2 separate regions of the Homo sapiens genome follow, and region 2 is linked to region 1. The links come from fine-mapping of genetic effects on gene expression. A gene starts in region 1. The other region holds a variant in brackets. All regions are shown on one strand. Distances are from middle to middle.

What was found. PIP is the estimated chance that this variant, and not a neighbour inherited with it, causes the effect. A credible set is the group of variants that fine-mapping cannot tell apart.
Region 2: its variant is the best candidate, but not a certain one, in a credible set for the expression of MXRA5 in nasal epithelium (TOPMed, PIP 0.54).

What each region holds. Positions count from the first base shown.
Region 1 is chrX:3,343,767-3,349,140 of GRCh38, reverse strand. MXRA5 (matrix remodeling associated 5) reads left to right here and starts at 2,489. Exons shown (of 7, transcript NM_015419.4): 1 at 2,489-2,626; 2 at 5,280-5,374. The coding sequence starts at 5,308.
Region 2 is chrX:3,534,533-3,539,906 of GRCh38, reverse strand. No RefSeq gene overlaps it. Among named protein-coding and RNA genes, the nearest start is that of SNORA48B, 5.0 kb to the right of the region's middle. The variant T/C (reference allele first, on the strand shown) is at 3,227.

The DNA of each region.
Region 1 (5,374 bases):
GCTATGACGGCATAAAAAGAAGGTGAGTGATTGTCCACAATGCAGGAAAAAAGCCCACTTTAGCAATGGGCATGGAGGTAAGGAAATACTATACAATGGAGATTGAGGAGAACTTTGTCAAAACAGTGGCGTGAACCAACAACAACAAAAATCAGGGATGTGCTACTTGTTCTTGACAAGCCAGATCTATCACCAAAAGGAAGATCCCAGGGACAGGCTGGGAAGCACAGGGCATGGCACAGGCCACCCATGGAAAACTTCAGCCTTGGGTTTGAGGATGATGGCATCCCTCTAAGTCTCAGTGATGGGCTGGAAGGGATGAATGAGAAGGAGTTGGTGGAGGAAGAAGTTGTCAAAATCTAAGACATATCCATGCAACCGCAGTGAGAGAGGTGGAGAGAAGAACACGTTGGGCCAAGAGATTCTTAGGCATCAGGATCTAAACTTGGCAACCAGTTGACTATGAGGAAGACATGAAGGAGAGGCAGAAGGCAAGGATGGCTTGAGTTTCTAGTTTAGCTGACGAGATGGGTGGCAACATCATTAACAAGGGTAAAGAGATGTTCAAGAGACAGTTGTTTTTTGTTTTGTTTTGTTTCGTGATTTAATCAATGGGTTTGGGGCATGCCCAGAAAGAGGCTACCTAAGGGCATTATTTGACTAATCCCTGGAACTATGTCAACACACACTGAAAACTAAAGCTAGAGAAGGAATGAATTCCCATTTATGAACCAGTATTTCCTGACTATCAACTCTGTGGAAGCCACCCTAGGCGCAGGAGGCAGGTGGTGAGGAATTCCTAGACGCTGTGTTTCTTAGGAGGAGCTAAGATGAACCACGCTTCATGCAGGGGAAGCAACTTGTTTCTTAGGCTTAGTCCTTCCTTCCTCCTGAAAGCCCCCTGACAGAGTGCTGGACGTAGGGCAGGACTTCTGAATCTAAAGAGCAGGCACTTCTCAATTATACTTTCTCCATGCATTGCCTTTTAAAAGCTGCATGCCTGCTGGGCTGGGTGGCTCACGCCTGTAATCCCAGCACTTTGGGAGTCCGAGGTGGATGGATCACTTGAGGCTAGGAATTCGAGTCCAGCCTGAGCAACATAGTGAGACCCTGTCCGCACCAAAAAAAAAAAATTAGCCCAGCGTGGTGGCGCAAGCCTCTAGTACCAGCTGCATGGGGGACGGAGGTGGAGAATCGCTTGCGCCTCGGAGGCAGAGGTTACAGTAAGCCGAGATCGCACCACTGGCACTCCAGCCTGGGCAACAGAGCGAGACTCTGTCTCAAATACATAGATACATATATACATACATACACACATACATAAATGCCGCACGCCATCAGCCTGCTTCAGGGGCATCTCAGCAGACAGGATTCGTTGTACAAGTACATGGTACCACTGGGCTTGTAAAAAAAATTTTTTTTATACTCACAGATGTCTTTTGTAGATCAAAGAACACAACAGGCAAACACTGACCCTAAGGACATGTCAAAATGCTGGTTCAGGGAGAGGAATACGGCTAACCAGAGGTATAGCGAAAAGCAGTCGCTGGTGCACCCTACAACAAGCTGGTGCAATGGTGCCTTTCCGGGCCCTACACACCTGTCTGAGCTCCATGTTTTTACCCCAGGTTGGCTCTGCTGACTGAAGATACTCGCCTGACCTCTCCCCACCATTCCAGGTCTGACTTATCCAGGAAGCCAGGCAGCCGCCGCCTCCTCTTCCTCTGCCTCCTGGAATAGGGACCTACCCTCTGCACCCTCTACTTTTTGCCTTGTCGCCAGGTCGCTCCCACCCTCCCACCGCCCCCTCCCCAGACAATACCATCAGACTCTCCGAACGTCCCAACCCTCGCCTTGCCCCTCGAATGCTCCCCAAGCCGGAGGGGAGCCGTTCCACCTTTCTGGCAGGAAGACTCTGGCAAGGGGAGGGAGGCGGGCGCCGGGGAGTCCTGGAGAGGCGGGAGGGCGTGGCGGCGGCTCTCACGTTGCAGCCCTGCCTGCAGCTAGTGGGATGCCGGCGGGGCCAGCCCGCTCCTGCTTGCACACGGTCTGGGAAGAGCTGCCGAGAAAACACCGTCTGGCCCGGAGAAGCGCAAACCCTGCTCCTTCTCTCTCTCCTGAAAGGAACGGAAACGTTCCCAGCGCTGCTTAGGCGCTCTCCAAGCGCGGACTCTACTGCGGCTCCCACCGCGCTCCCTGCATCTCGCCCTTCCCTCCTGGGGTCCTGGACTTCTCTCTGACAAAGAGCCCTCCTTCCCCGAGCCGCCTGCGGTTCTTGCAGCTGGAGTGGGCGAGGCATGCCCACCCGGGCCCAGGCGCAATGAAGACGCGAGAGGAAGGCTGAGCGCAGAGCGGCGCGGCCAGGGTCCCTTGGCTCGGGCCCGCGCCCCGTCTCCCCGGGGTGGGGCAGGGTGGGGGTGTGCCGAGGCGTGGACTTGGGGAAGCCTCGCAGCGCCGGGAATAAAAGGGCGCCGGCTTGCTGTGCCGCGCTGGGAAGCCGAGCTGCCTCACCCCCGGCCCCGGGAAGGGCATGGCCCCGGCAAACTCCCGGCCGTGACTCGCGCGCCCCGGCTCGGTGGATGCTCCCGGCGCACCGCTCCCGTGTGCGGCGGCTTCCCAAGGACAGGTGAGGACCCAGGGTGGCCAGGGCGCCCCAGGGCTGCCGTGTCTGCCTGCAGGGGGTGAAGGGATTTGAGACACCCAAGGGAAACACTGGGGGTAAAGGGCCTGCATGCAGGCAGATTGCACCGTTCCCCAGCACTGTTTGAAGTTGCTAAGAAATCAGGATACCTGAATTCCTGCAATTTTAAGTAGCTAAGGATCAGATAGGGAGGAGAGCCGGATCTTGAAGGAGGATGCACTGAATAGGTCTAATTAAGCCCAGACATCCCATGCCTCCTTTCCTCCCTCTCCCCAAAGCGCTCCCCATCCCTGGCTCTCTCTGGAGACCTTCAACCCCGCCATCCCGCGTTTCTAGGAAGCTGCCAACGGAATTCCTAAGTGAAGCCCACTCTGCTCTTGCAATCGGTGGGGGAAAGGACGCTTGAGGAGCCTCTTTCCAAGTTGCTCAGGCTGTGGCTACTTCAAGTCTCCTCTCCCTCCTCTCTTCCCCCTCTCCTTCCCCGCCTCTTTCCTCCTACTCTTACCCAGGCTTTCCCTGGAAAGGGGACAGCCCAACGCCTAGAGTGATCCGAGCCATGCAAAAAAACCGGGACAGTCATCACGCAGACAAAAGGGGTTTGGTGTCCGAGTCCCGGGCGGCGGGGACTCGCAGGGCCACCCCAGCCGCGTTCCGGGAAAGCTCGTAATTCATCCCGCAGCCAGCTCGACGCGACCCAGCGGACTCTGGAAGCCGGCCAGGGGCTCAGGGCTGCCCGCCCGGCCACTCCAGGTTGTCTGCCCAGGGCCAAGACGAAAGCAGACGGCCTCACGCCCCCACCCCTGCTTCCCGGCGGGGTTCGCAGACCGTCTCTGGCGGCCTAGCTGGCGCCAGGCCGCTTTCTCCGCGGCGGAGAGACCCGACCCCGAGTCCCCGGGATTAGGGTTGTCTGGGGGCGAGTTTCCTGGGTCTCCCGGGAGGTTGGTGCCGGGGTGGGAGGCCGGACAGGGAGTTGGGGCTGAAGAGTCCTATGGAACGCCCGGGCCAAGTCCGCCCGCAGGCACAGGACGCTGGGGACTGGCGCGGCTGCCCTTGGAACCAGCCCAGCGCCGAGGTCAGGCGCGCAGGCAGGGGCGGGGAAAGCCCGGGCTCTGGCGAGAGAGAAAACTCCGAGGACTTTTGCAGAGCTGCAGGAGCCGGTTTGTTCCAGCGCCCAGAGGCGGAGCCCGGACTTGCTTTTTTGCAAAACTACCTGTGCGCCATCAGTTCTTTATGGGCAGCTGAAGGGAGACGCGCCCCCGGGCTTAAGAGAATAACCTTTTCTAGGTCACTTAAAGGCAGGAAAAGCTACAGGTTTGGGATGTTCCTCTCTTATAGGAAGGATTTTAGAATTTTATTTTTATTTTTTGAGACGGAGTTTCGCTCTTGTTGCCCAGGCTGGGGTGCAATGGCTCGATCTCGGTTCACCGGAACCTCTGCCTCCCGGATTCAAGCGAATCTCCTGCCTCAGCCTCCCGAGCAGCTGAGATTATAGGCATGCGCCACCACGCCCAGCTAATTTTGTTTTGTTTGTTTGTTTGTTTGTATTTTTAGTAGAGACGGGGTTTTTCCATGTTGGTCAGGCTGGTCTCGAACTCCTGACCTCAGGTGATCCGCCCGCCTCGGCCTCCCAAAGTGTTGGATGACAGACGTGAGCCACCGAGTCCGGCCTGGGTTTTAGAATTTTAATCAGCAGTTCGCGCTCGTTCAGAACCCGGGCGAATGGGCAGGCGCGTGTTTGTTGTGTATCCCTATTTACTTTCCATGTGTGTCACTATTTTTAAGTGAACGCCATTCAAGAGATGACAAAAATGTTAGATGACATAGGCATTGCCAGGACAAGAAGAAAATGATCACCGCCATTCTAAATGAAGTAGCTGATGCAATCTAGCTTTACCCGAGCTTTTCCATTTTTTAGTGACTCCATTTTTTTCTGTTTGCCTGAATATATTTCATAAGCAGTCCCTTCCTGTTTATTGAATGATCAGAGGTTCCCCCAAACTTCCTCCCCGATTAACAGCAACTCTATATCATCAAAAAAACTCTCTGGCTTTTCCAAGACAAAAACATAAGGATAGTAAATAAACCCAGAAATAACAGGATGAATATCCTTCTAGCAAATACCTCTTTAAGCTCTTCAAGAAGCTAGAATTAAAGGTTTGAAAAATATCATTAAAGGAAAGAATACGAATAAACACTTCTTGGGAAGTTTTAAATTCAAATATATGCAATATATAATGGCTCAGTCTTGTTGGAGGCAGAAACACAATATTTTATTATTTTTTAATTATGGATACATAAATATAAACCTCTTTCTTCTCTCTCTCTCTCTCTCTCTCTCTCTCGTCTCTCTCTGTTTCATAGCCGCAATTACAGAGTGCAAGATAGATTTCCAAATCATAGTATCGAAGCCAAGAATCAAGACTATATTCTATAGTCATGATTAAAGTGAATGGTGAAAAGTTTAGAAAAAAAACCATGTTTCATCTTTCTCAATTCCCATGGTTTAAGCGTCACTACAACACATCGTGTGAAGTCCTGGGAAGCTTGAAACCCTGATGCACAATTCAAATTTAAAAATTGCCCACAGTTCGTCGGTGCTACCTGTGAATAAGCTCATCTCTTCGTTGTTCTACCTCAGGTATCCGAGAATCAGGCACCCCGACAAGATGCCCAAGCGCGCGCACTGGGGGGCCCTCTCCGTGGTGCTGATCCTGCTTTGGGGCCATCCGCGAG
Region 2 (5,374 bases), 190 kb before region 1:
CTCAGTTCACTGCAACCTCCACTTCCCAGGTTCAAGCAATTCTCCTGTCTCAGCCTCCCGAGTAGCTGGGACTACAGGGATGCGTCACCACACCTGGCTAATGTTTGTATTTTTAGTAGAGATGGGGTTTCATCATGTTGGCCAGGCTGGTCTCGAACTCCTGACCTCAAGTGATCCACCCACCACGGCCTCCCAGAGTGCTGAGATTACAAGCGTGAGCCACTGCACCCGACCTCTGCTTATAATTTAAATGCTGGCTAATGAAAATATTAAGGGGGGTGGGGGTAACACAGAAAAAAAAATCTACTTGTTACAATCCTTTGAACTGTAAATAAGTGTTAGACTGCCTTTGCACTATTATAGATCAGGTTCTTACAAGCAATGGTGTTTCTGCTTATTGCTTGTGGAAACCTGGCCAAATTCTCTAATCTCTCTGAACTTCCATTGTCTTATTTGTTAAGATGAAGATGAGAATAGTGCCCATCTCCTGGTGATGGTGCGGGTTATGGGATGTGTTTCATCTTAAGAGCTTAGTAATGTCCCTTGAAGATATTGGGGAAACCCAGTGCCTTGTTCTCTCTTTTTGCCCCTCATCTTCTATATTTTGACACTGTTGTCTTGTTCAGGTAAGTAAGTATGCCTTTGTCAAAATTCTTCATAGATAAAAGCCTTTTTAGGTCTCAGTTTCTGGGACCAGATGACAGAGTTCCCACGGCTTGGATCTTGACTCCACAAAAATGTCCCCTCTTTACTAACTACCATCAATGAGTATTCATGTGGACCCACTGAGTCACCACCCTGGTCCTAGGTCCTGCTCTCTCCATTCCACTATAAGCCCCACTGTCTGATTTTCATGGTAGACTCTGAATCTTGGTGACCTGTCCACTGTATCCAACCTCTTATCTCCCGAGTCCAGCCCTCACTTCATGTTTGTGTCATTGTTGAGTGGGGTGATGGGGCTCTACACTGCTCCGGCCGCCTACCCTGATTCTGCTGCTCACTCTAGGCAGTTGAGGCCAAACTTGACCAGCACTACAGCCAAGAAAATGCACCAAATTCTTTGAGTGGTGTTAGATTTCACATGCTGTTTTTCACAATGGAAGTTGGGCTGAACACACGCTTTTATATGTCAACATATAAAACATTAGGCATTTATTTAAAAAGTAGCCATAGAAATGAAAGTATGTATGTACTATCTATTGATCTATCTATCTATCTATCTATCTATCTATCTATCTATCATCTCTCTATATTATCTATCATCTTTCTATCATATCTATCATATGCATTTATCTATCATCTATCTATCATCTAGCTATCGTTATCATCTATCATATCTATCTATTGACTATCATTTATCATCTTCCTATCATATCTATCTACCTGTCATCTATTTGTTTATCATCTATCTGTCAGGCAGTCATCTATTATCTTTCTGTCAGTCATCTATCTAGCTATCATGTCTGTCACCTATCAATCATTTTATGTATTGTCTACATATCATCTCTATCATCTGTTATTGTATTATTCTATTACCTATTAACCTATCATTTTATCTATCATCTATCTACTTACCTTACCTATCATGTATCGTCTGTTAATCTACTATTTTATTATCTATCTTTCTATCATATTATTCTTTTTTTTCTTTTTTCTTTCTTTTTTTTTTTTTAGATGGAGTCTCACTCTGTCACCGAGGCTGGAGTGCAGTGGCACGATCTCAGTTTACTGCAACCTCCACCTCTCAAGTTCAAGCAATTATCCTGCCTCAGCCTCCCGATTAGCTGGGATTACAGGCGTGCGTCACCACACCTGGCTATTTTTTGTAGTTGTATGTGTATTTTTTAAATCTTTTTTTTTTTTGGCTTTAAGGAGCGGAGAGTTTAATAGAAAGAAAGAAGGGAGAAGAAAGATGGAAGAAGCTCCCCTGTGCAGAGACAGAGGGAGGGGGCTCCAAAGCCAAGAGAGGAGACCCCATGTGCCAGGGAAAAGCGGCTGCTTATATTATTTTTTGTATTTTTAGGAGAGACGGGGTTTCGCCATGTTGGCCAGGCTGGTCTTGAACTCCTGATCTCTGGTGATCCGCCCGCCTCAGCCTCCCAAAGTGCTGGGATTCCAGGTGTGAGCCACCATGCCTGGCATATCTATCATATTATAGCGAATATATGACAGCTGTGCTGTAAAGAGGAATGGAAATAGACACAGATTGGCTCACAGATCAGCATCCGAAGTGAATCCTTTTTGTTAAATGCTAAACTATAGATCTTACTAATTATTCAGTCATTCTTTGGATATTTATTTTGCAAACTGAATTTGTAAAATTCTATCTGTGTTACCTTAATTATTCATGTTATGACTCTGACAACTTGCTGTGTTCCTTACCTTGAATTTTAGCCACATTCCAAGAGTTAACTTTACCCTTTCCATGTATACAAGGTTTCTCCACTTCTTATTCTCCTATGCTCAGCACACATTTACTTTGAAGCAAACCCTACCTGCTTAATTTTTTCTTTAAAGTGAAATGTCACTGGTTTATTCACCAAGTAGTCTTCTGAGGGCTAAAGAAAACTACTTCTTTCTTCTTTGTAATATTTTTGTCCACAAGGCATTCTAAACATCAGTCAGTCTGCAACAGTGGTTCTTTCTCTGAACACTCAACATGTTTAAGCACTGTCATATGAACATGGTCACAAATATTATTATGCCATCAAATGGAGGACAATGTAATGCTTTAAGATTTAAATAGGCTTTAAAATCAGCATGGCCAGGTGCAGTGGCTCACACTTGTAATCCCAGCACGTTGGGAGGTTGAGGTGGAAGGACCACATGAGCACAGGAGTTCTAGACCAGCCTGAGCAACATAATCAGACCTCATCTCTACTAAAATGTTTTGAAAAATAAGCAGGGTGTGGTAGTGCACACCGGTTGTCCCAGCTCTTCCGGATGCTGAGGTGGGAGGATCACTTGAGCCTAGGAAGTCACTGCTGCAATGAACTATGACTGCACCACTGCACTCCAGCCTGGACAACAAAGCAAGAACCCAGCTCTATAAACAAACAAATAAATAAATAAATAAATAAATAAATAAATAAAATCCATTACCTGAAACATTCAGATAACAGTCATCAAAACAGTAAATACCTTTTAGAAAAACAAATTCTGTTCTATATAATTAATTAATGTGTTTATTTTGAGACAGGGTCTTGCTCTGTCGCCCTGGCTGAAG[T/C]GCAGTGGTGCAGTCGTAGCTCACTCCCGGGCTTAAGCAATCCTCCCACTTCAACCTCCTGAATAGCTGGGACTACAGGTGTGAGCCACTGGGCCTGGCTGACTCTATTATTTTATTGAGAATCCTAAAGTGGTTGCCATGGGCTGCAACGTGGGTCTCCCCTGTCCCTAGATGTTCATGTCCTGATCTCAGAAACCTGTGAATCTTTTACATTACATGGCAAACAGGACTTTCCAGATTAAGGCTCTTGAGAGGGGAGATTATTCTGGATTATTCAGATGAGCTCAGTGTAACACCAAGCTCCTTGGAAGAGGGCAGCAGCAAGGAGTCGAAGACATGCGATGAAGAAAGCAGAGAGAGACAGACAGAGACAGAGAGACAGAGAAAGAGAAGGAAAGACAGACAGAGACAGAGAGGGACACACAGAGACACACACACACACACACACACACACACACACACACAAAGAGAGAGAGACAGAGACACAGAGACAGAGAGAGACAACGAGAGTTGGAAAAACACAAAGACAGAGAGAGACAGAGACAGAGAGACAGGAAGAGACAAAGAGACACAGGGAAAGAGAGACAGAGAGAAAGAGAGACAGAGAATGGGAGACAGAAAGGCAGAGAGAGGGAGACAGAGGCAGAGGCAGAAAGAGAGACAGAGAGAGGCTGAGACAGACAGAGGCACAAGGAGAGATAGAGAAGAGAGAGGCAGAGACAGACAGAGAAGGGGGAAGTGAAGCAACACTCCTGGTTTTGAAGACAGAGGAAGGAGCCATGAGCCAAGGAATGCAGGCAGCCTCTAGAAGTCAGAAAAAAGCAAGAAACGATTTCCCTGGAGCCTCCCAAAGACAGCAGCCCTGCTGACCCATTTTAGATTCTGACCTCCAGGGTGACTGGGGATGTGTGAGGAGAAGGGAGCAAGGGACAGGAGACCCAAACTCCACAGTGAACAATTGGCTTGCTTGGGAGTGAGCCTGCAGAGGAGTGTGCACTGCTTTTCTAGAAGCTGGTGTTCGTGGCTCACAAATCTTCCTTGACCAATCTCTAAGCTGTCATCTCTAAGCTCTCATCAAGTCGGTTATTCCATGGCATTTGGAGCAGAAACTGGCATTTGATAACTGAAGTCCATTCTCTCGCTCGCTCGCTCGCTCGCTCTCTCTTTTTTTTTTTAGACACAGTTTCACTCTCATCGCCCAGGCTGAAGTGCAGTGGCGCAATCTTGGCTCACTGCAAGCTCCGTCTCCTGGGCTCAAGTGATTCTCCTGCCTCAGCCTCCCAAGTAGCTGGGTCTACAGGTACCTGCCACCACACCCAGCTAATTTTTTTGTAGTTTTTGTAGAGACAGGGTTTTGCCATGTTGCCCAGGCTGATCTTGAACTCCTGGCCTCAAGTGATCCTCCCGCTTCAGCCTCCCAAAGTGTTGGGATTACAAGCCTGCCCTGAAGTCCTTTCTCAAGTGAATTCAAATTTGTTTTGAGGTGGTAATGTTCCAAACTTAACGAGCAAACTATAGTTGCTAGCCTCTCATTCAACTAGTTGGGGCCAAGTAACTAAGTTCAATAGGATTGCAGTAGAAATGTCGTGGGACATTTAGGAAGACTGCAGAGAAAGAGCTAATTCACTTGGCGCAGAGGCCATTTTGTTCCTCACTGCTCCCTCATCTGCTTTCTGGGATGTAGATACAATGGCTGGAGCTTCAGCATTCACACTGAGACATGAGGCAAACTTGAAGATGAAAGTCATGTATTAGGGTGGTAGAAGAGATAAAAGGAAGGAATCTAGTTCCTGAGCATCTTGAAGCCAGATTTTTTTTGGAACATTCTTGTTCCAAGTTGTCTGTAGCTTTCAGTTTTGTTGTTTTTACTTTTGCCTTTTCTGAACCTGAGATTCATCTGTTATTAATTCTCTCAAGAACAACTACCTGGTGCATCTTGCTGAAATATGTGGCTGTCAGTGAATACATACTGTCTCCTTTCTAAAAGTCTTACTCAGTTGTGATTTTTATTTCATAGTCACCATGCTTCTCTAGTTTATTTGCTCTAGATAGTGAACTACTAGTGCAAAGTTGTTATTATTGGAAGAAACCAAAATTTCTATGTTTTAACCCCAAATAGGATCATGTAATTCTTAGTTTATTGAACCC